Linked DNA regions of Homo sapiens. The protein of the gene in region 2 purifies or fractionates together with the protein of the main gene of each other region. This does not show direct contact. Each region holds a gene or a part of one and is shown on either strand. Other genes may lie near its edges. The genes, in order: ITIH2 and GALP.

What was found.
Region 1: the proteins of GALP (region 2) and ITIH2 purify together in Homo sapiens (affinity purification with mass spectrometry; one large-scale study listed by BioGRID and IntAct). This does not show direct contact.

What each region holds. Positions count from the first base shown.
Region 1 is NC_000010.11:7,727,077-7,730,894, reverse strand, and holds part of ITIH2 (inter-alpha-trypsin inhibitor heavy chain H2 precursor), read right to left. Parts: coding exon 3,777-3,818; intron 3,193-3,776; coding exon 3,067-3,192; intron 944-3,066; coding exon 762-943; intron 1-761. UniProt on the Homo sapiens protein: May act as a carrier of hyaluronan in serum or as a binding protein between hyaluronan and other matrix protein, including those on cell surfaces in tissues to regulate the localization, synthesis and degradation of hyaluronan which are essential to cells undergoing biological processes.
Region 2 is NC_000019.10:56,178,831-56,182,648, reverse strand, and holds part of GALP (galanin-like peptide isoform 1 precursor), read right to left. Parts: intron 2,064-3,818; coding exon 2,015-2,063; intron 478-2,014; coding exon 397-477; intron 1-396.

The DNA.
Region 1 (3,818 bases), on a different chromosome or scaffold from region 2:
TCTGTCTCAAAAAATAATAGTAATAATTAAATTTTTACAAAAGTCAGCTGGGTTAATAGTCCCCAAATCAGAATCTTATCTCTTACTTGTTCCCAAATTTAAATACGATGCCTGGTACTGACAAAGAGCAGGGAAAAACATGTTCTTTCCCTACATCATTTTCTCATCTATTTAATCAAAACAAACAAGTAGTTTGTGTCTTTTCAATATATGTATTTTAATTAAAAAAATTATCTGTTGAACAGATGGATCTCACTATGTTGCCCAAGCTGGCCTTAAACCTCTGGGCTCGAGTGATCCTCCCACCTTGGCCTCCAAAGAGCTGGGATTACAGGCATGAGCCACCACACTCAGCCTGTATCTTAATACTTAAGAAAATTTACACTGTGAAAAATTGATACCAAGATGCCAATGCACGTTAAAGAGAAAACGGTTGGCCATGATGATAAGAAGACCAATTGCTGGTGGGGCAGGAGAGCTACAAGGAGCTTTGATGACGCTCAGAAGGCCTTTTTGTTCAGGGGGTAGGACAGCTGTTCCCAACACCCATCTGCCTCATACCTCACTGTTACTGCAGAAATATGAGGGTGGGGGGAAACATGTGAGAAAGGAACTGGGCACTTCCCTGATCCTTGCAACCAAATATGGCTGAGATCATGACCATTTTGAGTTAAGTTCAGTTATGCATCATACCTGCATCAGATATGGGTAGTTAAATGATTTCCAGTGAAGAATAAAAAAAGAACAGAAGAAAATGTTACCTTAAGCTGGGAAGACGTGTCCTGGTTTCCATAAATCCTTTGTGCAATTCCATGGTTTTCATTGGACAGTCTCTTCAAAAAATCATAGTCCACATCAAATCCCATGCCCAAACTGAACAAGGAGATATTGTCTTGGATGTTCTCCTTAACGTTTTTCTGAATTTTTGACAGTTTTAGTTCGCCTAAAGTTGGTGATGTCCGAAAGGAAAGGAATGAAGAAGCAATATCATAAATTTTCTGGAAAATCCAGGGAGGGCAGTTTAGTAAAGTGTGTCCAGATTAAAACTGCATTTCCCTTTTGACCCAGTAACTCAATTTCTAGTTTTTCTTAGAGATGCACTCGTACATGTTGAAATGAAGTGTGGGTTGTGTTGCATAGCAACATTATTTGGGAATTAGCAACATATTGGAAACAACATAAATATGCACCAATGAGGGCGCTTGGTTAGATGATGATACATTTAAACCGTGAGATACTATGCAGCTATTAAAAAGGACATGGAAACTCCTTATGTATGTATACCAGACAATCTCAAGGGCATGTTTAGAGGAGAAAAAAAAAACAAGGTAAATATCAGGGTACCTAGGATGCATTTGCATGCATGCATGTATAAATGTATGTATGTGTATGTATGCATATACACATACATGTGTGCAAACATGTATATATAGTATACAGGCATGCATAAACTATTTGTGGAAAGATACACAAGAAACTGGTAACCAGTGACTGATTCCAGGGACAGGAACTGAATGGTTGAGAAACAGGAGTGAGAAACCATGATTAAACCAAATTATGGTTTAATTTTGTTTTTTTTTTTGAGACAGAGTCTCACTTTGTTGCCCAGGCTGGAGTGCAGTGGCACGATCTCAGCTCACTGCAACCTCCGCCTCCTGGGTTCAAGGGATTCTCCTGTCTCAGCCTCCCGAATAGCTGGGATTACAGGCACACGCCGCCCTGTCAGGCTAATTTTGTATTTTTAGTAGAGATGGGGTTTCACCATGTTGGCCAGGCTGGTCTTGAATTCCTGACCTCAGGTGATCCACCCACCTCAGCCTCCCAAAGTGCTGGGATTACAGGTGTGAGCCACCATGCCTGGCAAGTTTAATATTTTAAACTATATTTCCTTTTCCACCTTATGATTTCATTCAAAACTTGAATTTTGAAAATAATCTGATCTGAGGGAGAAAACATTGGCTCTACAACAAATACATAACACTGGCTCATTCTAGTCTCGTTATTAATAAGATGGTTGCTCTCTGGCTTTCTAAAGCTCTGACTGCCATTGTTTTTGCCTCGTGCATTTTCATTCTGCTTGGCTGTGTCAGGACGTGTTAGACTCGGTCCTAGTCTGTACGACAGCACACTCAGGCAACACAATCTGGCATTCGCTATTACTTACAGTGGCCAGAATAAAGACACAAGTAAAACAAAGATAGCTTGGCACAGTGGCTCACACCTGTAATCTCAACATTTTGGGAGTCCGAGGTGGGAGGACTGCTTGAGCCCAGGATTTTGAGATCAGCCTGAGCAACATAGTGAGACTTCGTCTCTCCAAAAAAAAAAAGAAAGAAAAAAAAGAAATTAGCTGAGTGTGGTGGTGCACACCTGTAGTCCCAGCTACTCAGGAGGCTGAGGTAGGAGGATCACTTGAGCATGGGAGGTTGAGGCTGCAGTGAGCTGTGTGTGCTCCACTGCACTCCCTCCTGGGTGACAGAGCAAGACCCTGTCTTCAAAAATAAATAAAATAAACTAATGTAACAAAAATAAAAATAAATAATAGAAGTAGGGAGATGTTGCTGCCCATTTTGTAGAAAGAAAAATGTTTAACTTCAAGGTTGTGTCAGAGAGCAGTCATTTCTCCAGGTGCAACCGGGAGAAGTGTGGAGAATAATAGGGAATATGCTACTGTGGCCTCCAAAGGTACTGCTGGGAGATCTGGGATCAATACTCATCATTCACCACCCCCATACACCATCTTCACATACCTCAAGTTGAGGAAATAGATGCATTTCCCTAGAATGCATCAGCAATCCTCACAACATACTATTAAAATTCAGACTCAGATTTCTGCATATTGTGGAGGTGGAACTGAGGCATTCAAGAGCGCCCTTGCTGAAAGTGTCTGAGCAGTAGCTTAAGGGGTGAGGGCTGCAGGATCAGAAGACCTCCTTTAGGAAGCATGGGTTTAAAATGTTCTAGAAACTCAGGCAAATGCCATTAGAGTTCCCCTTTTAGGCAAACCACCATTCCAAGAAACAACAGTGAAAGTGTTTGTCGTGAGAAGGTTGAAGTGACACTTGCCCACTGTTGGATCTCCATCAGAAACCAAAATGATCAGCGAGACGGAGTTGGGGTCTAACAGTCCCAAGTTATTGGCTTCATTCAAAATGAAGATTGCCCGTAGGAGTGCTTCGTTGATGTTTGTGCCTGTTGAAGTAGCATAATGAAACGTTGGGTATGCGTTCTCGCCACACGCAGAAAATCCCATTCTGGATTCAGACTCATATGTCGGCTGATCACTTATCCATCACTTATTCCATGCCAAAATCATTTCATTGCTTTCTGAGTGACACAAACTGTGCTCAAGCTGGTGGTCCCCCAGTGCAGTGAAATATTCACTTTGAAATAAACTATCCCCTTAGAGATGAACTAGCCCTTTCAAAGCACAGACTGTTAGCTTGTTAAACACCAGATTAAAGTATCCAAATCAGCCTTGCCAAGATACTCTGAAGATAGTAACATTTTATGCTTTATGCAGGCAATAAAGAAGGCCAGTGTCACTGAACCTTTTTCTGAGAGACATTAAAACGGTTCAAAGCTTATGTGGGCTGTATTACAAATTCTACTTTCACTACAAACTTAGCATTCATCCATTACCAATAAATGTATTATTTAAGATAGGCCCTCGAATGCTGGGGAAAGACCACTGTGATGGGAATAATGCTTCTTAAGTGAATCATGATTTGAACCCAGAGGAAGTGTCTCCTTGGGATTTAGCCCAACACACTCACCTCCACTGGGCTGGATTTTCTCAATATACCTCTTGGCATCTG
Region 2 (3,818 bases):
ATGCCCAGCCAAACCATTCCATTTCTACCATATGCCAGACACTTCTAGGAAATTAACGTGCATTTTCTCACTGAGTCATACAACTAAATCATGGGATTATTCCATTTATGTCATTTCAAAGTGGAGGGATTCTGTGAGGTCTGATGCAGAGAAAACACGGGGCCCATGGTTCAAACAGGATTCGGAATTTCACGTTGGTAACAAAAGAACATTAAAGCAAGCTGGGGCTCCAGGTGACGGCCCAGAAGCTTGAAGGAAACGCATCACTTGCCCAGGGCCCCCCAAATAGTAAGCGGCAGGGTGAGGGCTGGAGCTCACATCTACCAGTTTCCAAAGCCAGGAGAGAGCCCGCAGGGGAGGACGCAGGAGAAGACGTCTAACTCCCCGCTCACTCACCGATGGCCTTCCACAGGTCTAGGATCTCAAGGGCTGTCTCCCTCTTTCCGTCTTGGTCACCCATTTGGGGAAGGTGGAGGACTGGGTAGGGAGGGAGAGAGCAAGAGCAGGTGGTCGGTTAAGTAGAACTGAAGAAACACATCGTCCATCAATTCAACAGCATGGCTCACCGGACGCAGCGCCTCCACCAAGTCTGTCGGACGGGGTGCGTGTTGACCGTCCCTACCTACCGGTGGGGAAATCGTGCAGCTGCAAGCGGTCACTTGCTCGAAATTACCCTGCTGCTAATGGCAGGACTGGGGCTTGAACCCACCTAGGTCTGGGTCCACATCTCACGTTCTTTCTGCTCCTGCCACACTGTCTCTGCAGCCTGGGTTTCCCTGAATGAAGCTCAAACTGAAACCAACCTTGAGCACCACGGGAATCTCGGTATTTTATGGATGTAATGCTCACTATGCAGCACGTGGCCATGGGCACACCTATTGCCCAGGGAAGATGCAACTGGAGAAATGGGGAGAGACAAATGGAGGAAAAGAGAAAAAAGTTGCCAGGAGCAGTGGCTCACGCCTATAATCCCAGCAGTTTGGGAGGCTGAGGCGGGCGGATCACCTGAGGTTGGGAGTTCAAGACCAGTCTGACCAACATGGAGAAACCCCGTCTCCACTAAAAATACAAAATTAGCCGGTGGGGCATTGTGGTGCATGCGTGTAATCCCAGCTACTTGGGAGGATGAGGCAGGAGAATTGCTTGAATCCGGGAAGCAGAGGTTGCTGTGAGCCAAGATTGGCGCCACTGCACTCCAGCCTAGATAACAAGGCGAAACTCCATCTCAAAAAAAAAAAAAAAAAAAAAAAAAAGGAGAGAGAGAGACAAAGAATAGCAGCTAATCATTATACAGCACCCACTACACACCAGCTATTGTTCTATTAATAACTCAATCCTCACAACATTCTCGGATGTAAGGGCCATCATTACACCCACTGTCACAGATGAGGAAACTGAGGCATAGGGAGATCAAGGTTGCAGCCAGGTGTGGTGGCTCATGCCTGTAATCCCAGCATTTTGGGAGGCCAAAAGTAAGTGGATCACCTGAGGTCAGGAGTTCGAGACCAGACTGGCCAACATGGTGAAACCCCATCTCTACTAAAAATGCAAAAATTAGCCGGGCGTGCTGTTGGGCACCTATAATCCCAGCTACTCAGGAGGCTGAGGGAGGAGAATCGCTTAAACTACTCGGGCGGCGGAGGTTGCAGTGAGCTGAGATCGCACCATTCACCATTGCACTCCAGCCTGGGCAACAGAGCGAGACTCTGTCAAAAAAAAAAAAAAAAAAAAAAGAAAGAAAGAAAGAAAGAAAGAAAGAGTGAGAGAGCGAGAGAGAGAGAGATCAAGGTTGCAAACCAAGCAAGGGGCAGAGCTGGGATTTGGGCCCAAGGCTCTGGCTCCAGAGTCCACACACCCATCGCTCTGCTTAGACTAACCCTCCAGACAGATCTGCAAATAAATCCATGGGCCTCAGTGAATGTGGGTGAGGGTCTTTACAAGCCACAAACTCACTGCCTGCAGCAACCAGGCAGACTCGGGCCAGGGATGGAGAGCTGAGCGCAGCCTCACTCACCGGGACCCAGAAGGTAGCCAGCACTATTGAGGGTCCAGCCTCCTCGTCCCTGGATAGAGATGCAGAAATCAAGACTCAAGCAGACAGAAAGCGGGGCAGGCGTCCCACAGGTCCGGGGTGATGTGGGTCGTCATACGACTTTCCCACTGGCCTGTGGAGCAGGTTCATTTCAATCCCCATTGCACCGATGAGGAAATTGAGGACTTCCTGAGACAAAGCCAACTGGCCTGGAAAGAAAGCTTAAAGCGTTCTGTTGTGAGAGGAGAAAGGTGGTTATTGGGGGCTGGGGGGAAGGAGAAATGGGGAATTGTTCTTCAACAGGTATAATTTCAGTTATGCAGGATGAAGAAGTCCTAGAGCTCTATGGCACAACATCGTGCCCACAGCCAGCAATACGGTGTTGCACACTTTAAAGATATGTTAAGCCTGGGGGTGGTGCTCATGCTGTAATCCCAGCATTTGGGGAGGCCGAAGCAGAAGGATGGCTTGAGAACAGGAGTTCAAGGCCAGCCTGGCCAACATGGCGAAATCTCGCCTCTACAAAAAATACAAAAATTAGGCCGGGCGTGGTGGCTCTCGCCTGTAATCTCAGCACTTTGGGAGGCTGAGGTGGGCGGATCACCTGAGGTCAGGAGTTCAAGACCAGCCTGGCCAACCTCGTCTCTACTAAAAATAAAAAAAATTAGCTGGGCATAATCCCAGCTACTTGGGAGGCTGAGGCAGGAGAACCGCTTGAACCTGGGAGGTGGAGATTGCAGTGAGCGGGGATTGCACCACTGCGCTCCAGCCTGGGCAACAGAGTGAGACTCCGTCTCAATAAAACAAAACAAAACAAAAAATACAAAAATTAGCCAGGCATGGTGGCGCACACCTGTAGGTGGGAGGATCACTTTAGCCCAGGAGTTTGAGGCTACAGTGAGCTATGATCTCATCCCTGCACTCCAGCCTGGGTGACAGAGCGAGACTCTGTCTCAAAGAAAAAAAAAAAAAAAAAGAGAGGCTCTTCCTCCAACAACCCTAGTAGGTAAACTTGCTATTAGCTTCATTAGAAAGAGGCTCTTGGCCAAGGCTGGCGGATCACGAGGTCAGGAGATCGAGACCATCCTGGCTAACACGTGAAACCCCATCTCTACTAAAAATACAAAATATATATATATATAATAGCCGGGCGTGGTGGCGGGTGCCTGTAGTCCCAGCTACTCGGGAGGCTGAGGCACGAGAATGGCGTGAACCTGGGAGGCAGAGCTTGCAGTGAGCTGACATTGCGCCACTGCACTCTAGCCTGGGCCACAGAGCGAAATTCCGTCTCAAAAAAAAAAAAAGAAAGAAAGAGGCTCTTGAGGCCCAGAAAGATTCTGCAAATTGCAACAAATTGCAACACACTAAGAAGAACAGCTGGGACTCAAACCCAGGTGGATCCCAGACTCTTTATTTATTTATTTATTTATTTTGAGATGGAGTCTCGCGTCTCACTCTGCCACCCAGGCTGAAGCGCAGTGGTGCCATCTTGGCTCACCGCAACCTCCGCCTCCTGGATTCAAGCGATTCTCCTGCCTCAGCCTCCTGAGCAGCTGGGCTTACAGGCACCTGCCACAAGGCCCAGCTAATTTTTGTATTTTTAATAGAGACAGGGGGTTTCGCCATGTTGGCCAAGCTGGTCTCAAACTCCTGACCTCAGGTGATCCGCCCTCCTCGGCCTCCCAAAGTGCTGGGATTGCAGGCGTGAGCCACCGTGCCCGGCCGGTAGATTCCAGACTCTTAAGGAGGATGTGCACTGAATATTTAAGCCAGAGTGTTCCACTGT